2 linked regions of the Homo sapiens genome follow. The protein of the gene in region 2 purifies or fractionates together with the protein of the main gene of each other region. This does not show direct contact. Each region holds a gene or a part of one and is shown on either strand. Other genes may lie near its edges.

The links.
Region 1: the proteins of SP2 (region 2) and IRF1 purify together in Homo sapiens (affinity purification with western blotting; one study listed by BioGRID). This does not show direct contact.

Annotation. Positions count from the first base shown.
Region 1 is NC_000005.10:132,481,109-132,484,441, reverse strand, and holds the end of IRF1 (interferon regulatory factor 1), read left to right. Parts: coding exon 1-80; intron 81-366; coding exon 367-491; 3' UTR 492-2,833; downstream 2,834-3,333. UniProt on the Homo sapiens protein: Transcriptional regulator which displays a remarkable functional diversity in the regulation of cellular responses.
Region 2 is NC_000017.11:47,913,236-47,916,735, reverse strand, and holds part of SP2 (transcription factor Sp2), read right to left. Parts: intron 2,011-3,500; exon of another isoform or gene 1,875-2,010; intron 1,425-1,874; coding exon 1,348-1,424; intron 581-1,347; coding exon 1-580. UniProt on the Homo sapiens protein: Binds to GC box promoters elements and selectively activates mRNA synthesis from genes that contain functional recognition sites.

The DNA.
Region 1 (3,333 bases), on a different chromosome or scaffold from region 2:
CAATGAACCTGGAGTCCAGCCCACCTCTGTCTATGGAGACTTTAGCTGTAAGGAGGAGCCAGAAATTGACAGCCCAGGGGGTAAGAAGGCCCTGGATCCTTATGGCTTCTTAGATGAGGGAGAACCACGTAGGGATGGAGAAAGCTTGGGGGCAGGGCCAGGGAGCAGGGCGGTAAAGCATCTGGGGTACTGACACATTGTGAATTAGCTACGGCTGCCATGCCTTAAGGTTTGCCTGAAGCTGAGTGGATGTTTACTGCTGTGCTGGGAAGAGCAGAGGCCATGTCTATGGCCTTCAGGGGTAGGGGGAAGCACACCTGATGCCACCGTCCCCTACCCTCATACAACCTTCTTCACATCTTCTAGGGGATATTGGGCTGAGTCTACAGCGTGTCTTCACAGATCTGAAGAACATGGATGCCACCTGGCTGGACAGCCTGCTGACCCCAGTCCGGTTGCCCTCCATCCAGGCCATTCCCTGTGCACCGTAGCAGGGCCCCTGGGCCCCTCTTATTCCTCTAGGCAAGCAGGACCTGGCATCATGGTGGATATGGTGCAGAGAAGCTGGACTTCTGTGGGCCCCTCAACAGCCAAGTGTGACCCCACTGCCAAGTGGGGATGGGGCCTCCCTCCTTGGGTCATTGACCTCTCAGGGCCTGGCAGGCCAGTGTCTGGGTTTTTCTTGTGGTGTAAAGCTGGCCCTGCCTCCTGGGAAGATGAGGTTCTGAGACCAGTGTATCAGGTCAGGGACTTGGACAGGAGTCAGTGTCTGGCTTTTTCCTCTGAGCCCAGCTGCCTGGAGAGGGTCTCGCTGTCACTGGCTGGCTCCTAGGGGAACAGACCAGTGACCCCAGAAAAGCATAACACCAATCCCAGGGCTGGCTCTGCACTAAGAGAAAATTGCACTAAATGAATCTCGTTCCCAAAGAACTACCCCCTTTTCAGCTGAGCCCTGGGGACTGTTCCAAAGCCAGTGAAATGTGAAGGAAAGTGGGGTCCTTCGGGGCGATGCTCCCTCAGCCTCAGAGGAGCTCTACCCTGCTCCCTGCTTTGGCTGAGGGGCTTGGGAAAAAAACTTGGCACTTTTTCGTGTGGATCTTGCCACATTTCTGATCAGAGGTGTACACTAACATTTCCCCCGAGCTCTTGGCCTTTGCATTTATTTATACAGTGCCTTGCTCGGCGCCCACCACCCCCTCAAGCCCCAGCAGCCCTCAACAGGCCCAGGGAGGGAAGTGTGAGCGCCTTGGTATGACTTAAAATTGGAAATGTCATCTAACCATTAAGTCATGTGTGAACACATAAGGACGTGTGTAAATATGTACATTTGTCTTTTTATAAAAAGTAAATTGTTTATAAGGGGTGTGGCCTTTTTAGAGAGAAATTTAACTTGTAGATGATTTTACTTTTTATGGAAACACTGATGGACTTATTATTGGCATCCCGCCTGAACTTGACTTTGGGGTGAACAGGGACATGCATCTATTATAAAATCCTTTCGGCCAGGCGCGGTGGCTCACACCTGTAATCCCAGCACTTTGGGAGGCCGAGATGGGTGGATCACCTGAGGTCAGGAGTTCGAGACCAGCCTGGTGAAACTCCATTTCTACTAAAAATGCAAAAATTAGCTGGGCGTGGTTGCGGGTGCTTGTAATCCCAGCTACTCAGGAGGCTGAGGCAAGAGAATCGCTTGAACCTGGGAGGTGGAGGTTGCAGTGAGCCGAGAACATGCCATTGCACTCCAGCCCGGGCACCAAAAAAAAAAAAAAAAAAAAAAACCTTTCATTTGGCCGGGCATGGTGGCTTATGCCTGTAATCCTGGCACTTTGGGAGGCCAAGGTGGGCAGATCACCTGAGGTCAGGAGTTTGAGACCAGCCTGGCCAACATGGTGAAACCTCATCTCTACTAAAAATACAAAAATTAGGCCGGGCACGGTGGCTCACGCCTGTAATCCCAGCACTTTGGGAGGCAGAGGCGGGCGGATCACGAGGTCAGGAGATCAAGACCATCCTGGCTAACACGGTGAAACCCCGTCTCTACTAAAAATATAAAAAATTAGCCGGGCCTAGTGGCGGGTGCCTGTAGTCCCAGCTACTCGGGAGGCTGAGGCAGGAGAATGGCATGAACCCCGGAGGCAGAGCTTGCAGTGAGCCGAGATTGCACCACTGCACTACAGCCTGGGCGACAGAGCGAGACTCCGTCTCAAAAAAAAAAAAAAAAATTAGCCGGGCCTGGTGGCGGGCGCCTGTAATCCCAGCTACTGTGGAGGCTGAAGCACAAGAATCACTTGAACCCGGGAGATGGAGGTTGCAGTGAGCTGAGACTGTGCCACTGCACTCCAGCCTGGGTGACAAGAGTGAGACTTTGTCTCAAAAAAAAAAAAATCCTTTTGTTTATGTTCACATAGACAATGGCAGAAGGAGGGGACATTCCTGTCATAGGAACATGCTTATATAAACATAGTCACCTGTCCTTGACTATCACCAGGGCTGTCAGTTGATTCTGGGCTCCTGGGGCCCAAGGAGTGTTAAGTTTTGAGGCATGTGCCATAGGTGATGTGTCCTGCTAACACACAGATGCTGCTCCAAAAAGTCAGTTGATATGACACAGTCACAGACAGAACAGTCAGCAGCCCAAGAAAGGTCCTCACGGCTGCTGTGCTGGGTAGCACTTGCCATCCAGTTTCTAGAGTGATGAAATGCTCTGTCTGTACCGTTCAATACAGTAGGCACTGGCACTAGCCACATGTGCCAGCTAAGCACTTGAAATGTGGCCAGTGCAATAAGGAATTGAACTTTTAATTGCATTTAATAAACTGTATGTAAATAGTCACATGTGGTCAGTGGTTACCATATTGAACAGTGCAGGTAGATACTGGACTGGGGGCAGATCTGAGGGAGAGGGGTTTGAGTAGTGGGAGGACACTGGGGATAGGGGCTTGGGGCTATTTACCTGCCATTTTGAGTAGTTTGCTATTTTAGCAGCCAACAATAACTATTGGTGCTGAATACCAGCCCTGCAGTGTAGCATGAGACAGGTCCATGCACACATGCATTAGGAAAACACCTTCATGAAGCAGGATTCTGCCTGGGCTGATGCACACAACCTCTATGGAGGGTAAACAGTGTTTCTGAAGACCGTAGTTTGGGAACCCCTGACATATGACAATGCCCCCTTAGATAAGCTCAAGTTACAGGAATGTCTGAGGGTGGAAGGTGTGGATATGTGCTTTTCCTGTCTCCCTCTTCAGTGTCTGGCCATGGGGCATAAACACTACCCAGCAGTAGGTAGGCTGGCCAAGAGAAGCCAGCTTGCATCACCAGCATCATCTA
Region 2 (3,500 bases):
CGTTCACAAGGTTGTTGACGGGCAGAGTGAGCGTCACATTGCCGCCCCCACCTGTCAGCTTCACCACATTGGCCCCGCTCTGCACGGGGGTGGTGGTCGTACTCGACTTCTGGATGGGGGCTGGCTTGATGGGGACAGGCTTGTGACTGGACGGTGAGGGGGTGATGATGGCTTGGTTGGTGCCAGGGATGATCTGGATCTGGTTGGTGAGATTGGGCTGTACTTGGATGGTTTGGGAATTGCTTGCCTGAATCTGAGGGACCGCCTGGTACTGGATATTGGCATTTGATCGGGTCCCTTTGTTGATCATGGTGGGATTCTGGATAGCGAACACCAGCTGCCCTCCAGGATAGGAGGCGCTCAGTTGTGACCCCTGAATCTGAAGTATATTTCCTTTGGAGGACAAGATTCCAAAGCTATTCTTGCCGGGGCTGAGAGGGAGAGGGGCAGGTTTGATAGGGACAAGTTTCCGCGGTGTGGGCTGTGGGGGAGCAGGAGGTGTCACAGCAGCTTCAACTGCTGGAGGGCCAATTTTGCTACATGTTGCAGCAAGCAGGGCTAAGGGAGATGGCTGGGAGTCCTGCAAAAAAACAGCAGAGAAAAGGAGTGAGACAGGAAGGCCCGCTGCCCGGCCGCCTCTGTCCATGATCCTCTCCTCCTGGCGGCATTCCACGCCAGTCTTCCCCACCTCCGGGGCAGGCATGTTGCCAGTACCCTCCCCTGCTTGGCTGCTGTCTCCCCTTCTCTACTGGTTTCTCCATTAAGTGAGGGAGAAAAGGTGGGCAATGTCTTTCTCAGGAAGGAACCCCTGGCAGCACCCCACAGACAGGGTAAACTAACAGCACGAGCTGACTTCCTACTCTCCGCTGGCCTTGTTTCTAAGGACAGTGAAGCATGTTTGGCTCTCAGATGGAGTTTGTTAGCCCACCCCAGGGACTGAGGGGTCCCTGATTGCTCAACTGAGGAAAGGAGGGAGGAAAAAATGGAGGGGCAACAGGAGGAATAAATACTTCAGTAAAGTGCTTTTTAGTACTCGGAACATGTAACTTTATAGACTGGGGAGGGCTACACTTTCGAGACAATGAGAAAGCCTCTGTTTTCCTTTTCCTTTTTTAGTGAGGTCTGGTGGAAGGAACACAGAGTTTAATCCTTGTTTTTCCCCCTGGCCCAACTGCGGCACCTTAGGTAAATGGCCATAGTTTCTCAGTAAAGAAAATGTGGCTAACTGAACCTTCCCCAGTCTCATAACCTAGGGTATTTATAGTGAGACAGTGAAGAGAGAGTGTTTTCGGTGAGTCTGTCCAGGATGCTGCAGCCCCAAGCCCTCGGAGCCCACTGCCTACTCGCCTGGGTGGTGGAGGCGGCAGGCTGCAGGTAGTCACTGGGACTCACAGCAGCAGTGGCAGCCATGCTGGTCTGTGGATCTGTTGGAAGAAAAGAGATGGAGTAATGTATAAAATGCCCAAAAAGAACGCAAGCCCACTTGCCTCAGATTTTCTTTTTTTCTATTTTTTTTTTTTTGAGACGGAATTTTTGCTCTTGTTGCCCAGGCTGGAGTGTAGTGGCATGATCTAGGCTCACGGCAACCTCCCCCTTCCAAGTTCAAGCAATTCTCCTGCCTCAGCCTTCTGAGTAGCTGGGATTACAGGCGCTGCCACCATGCCCAGCTAATTTTTGTATTTTTAGTAGAGACAGAGGTTTCACAATGTTGTCCAGACTGATCTCGAATTCCTGTCTTCAGGTGATCCACCCGCCTTGGCTTCCCAAAGTGCTGGGATTACAGACATAAGCCATTGCACCCAGCCAGATTTTCTTTTTGCCTCTATTTGTTGCTGCTTCTCCAAGGGAAGTTAATGACTTTTCCCCAGACTTACCCACCCTGGGTTGATAGCCTTACATCTATTTCAGTAGATTACTTTCTCCTCTCCTCTCCTCAGACTCAGCCATCTGAGGCTGTGAGGACAGCTGGTCCTGCTGTCGTTGGACTGCCCCCTCCAGCCACCACAGAGTCTGAGATAACACAAAAATAACCAAGATTATACCAGGACTCTCTTCTGTAACTCAGCTATGCCCTCTCTGCTGGGCACTGCTGGCTCTCCATAGCTAAACTGGAACTCCTCTATGGTGGGCAGGGGGGAGCTCCCCAGCTAATCCTCTAGCTCAAACTCAAGCCTCCTGTTCACTCCTGCTGTAGACAGATGCCAAAACTGGGAGGGAAGTATCGCTCAGCCAAGATTTCTGACAAGGAGGACACACCTGCTCCACTGCCAAGTCTTGGGTGTTTTATGCTCAGCCTTCACCACAAAGGCCGTTGTCCCCAGGCAGCATATACAGCACATGGGTCAATTCTTTTTTTTTTTTTTTGAGAAGGAGTTTCACTCTTGTTGCCCAGGCTGGAGTGCAATGGCACGATCCTGGCTCATTGCAACCTCCACCTCCCAGGTTCAAGTGATTCTCCTGTCTCAGCCTCCTGAGTAGCTAGGATTACAGGCATGTACCACCATGCCCAGCTAATTTTTGTATTTTTAGTAGAGACAGGGTTTCACCATGTTGGTCAGGCTGTTCTCAAACTCCTGACCTCAGGTGATCCACCTGCCTCAGTCTCCCAAAGTGTTGGGATTACAGGCGTGAGCCACCATCCCTGGCCTCATGGGTCAATTCTTTACTTGAATTTACGCTTTTACATAGTACAATAGGCACGGCCCCACAGGCATCAACCAAGACTCAGTAGAGCTAATGACTAACTGGATATAACAAGGAGAATGAAAACAGAGTAAATTCTATTTTTGTTTAAATGTGTATATATTTCTATATATGAATATAATCAAATAGGAAAAAGTCTTAAGCCATTATCTCCTAGCGGTTGAGTTTTGTTTGACTTAAACTTATTTTGCACCTTGGTTTTCTGTACTTTTTCATTTTCCCATGATAAATATATTCTACTGTACTTTTTTTCTTAAATAAAGAAAAATAAGGTTGAGGAAGTAATGAAGGGACTCTCTACTGTGCACTTAAGTCATCCAAAAGAGGCTAGGTACAGTAGCTCATGCATGTAATCCTAACACTTTGGGAAGCCGAGGTGGGAAGATCGCTTGAACCCAGGAGTTCAAGACCAGCCTAAGCAACACAGTTAGACCCCGTCCCTAATAAAAATTTTTTAAAAAGAAAGAAACACAGTATCAGGAAAACGAAAGTCATGAGAATTTTAGGAGAAAGAATCTATACCATCTTAAAGTGCATAAATCACTAAGGAAAAGAACACCAGGCAGAGTCAGACTTCAATCCTGGACCTCTGGAAAGCAGATTTCAGTAAGTACAGAAATAAGAGGGGTATTACTTTAAAGACTAAAAGAGACAAAAAGGCTCAGGATGCATTCTGCTTGGAAGGCTGAGATGGAAGGATCACTTGAGGCCAGGAATTTGAGGCTGCAGTGCCCTATTATCACACCTGTGAATAGCCAAAACACTCCTGCCTGGGCAACATAGCAAGACCCCATCTC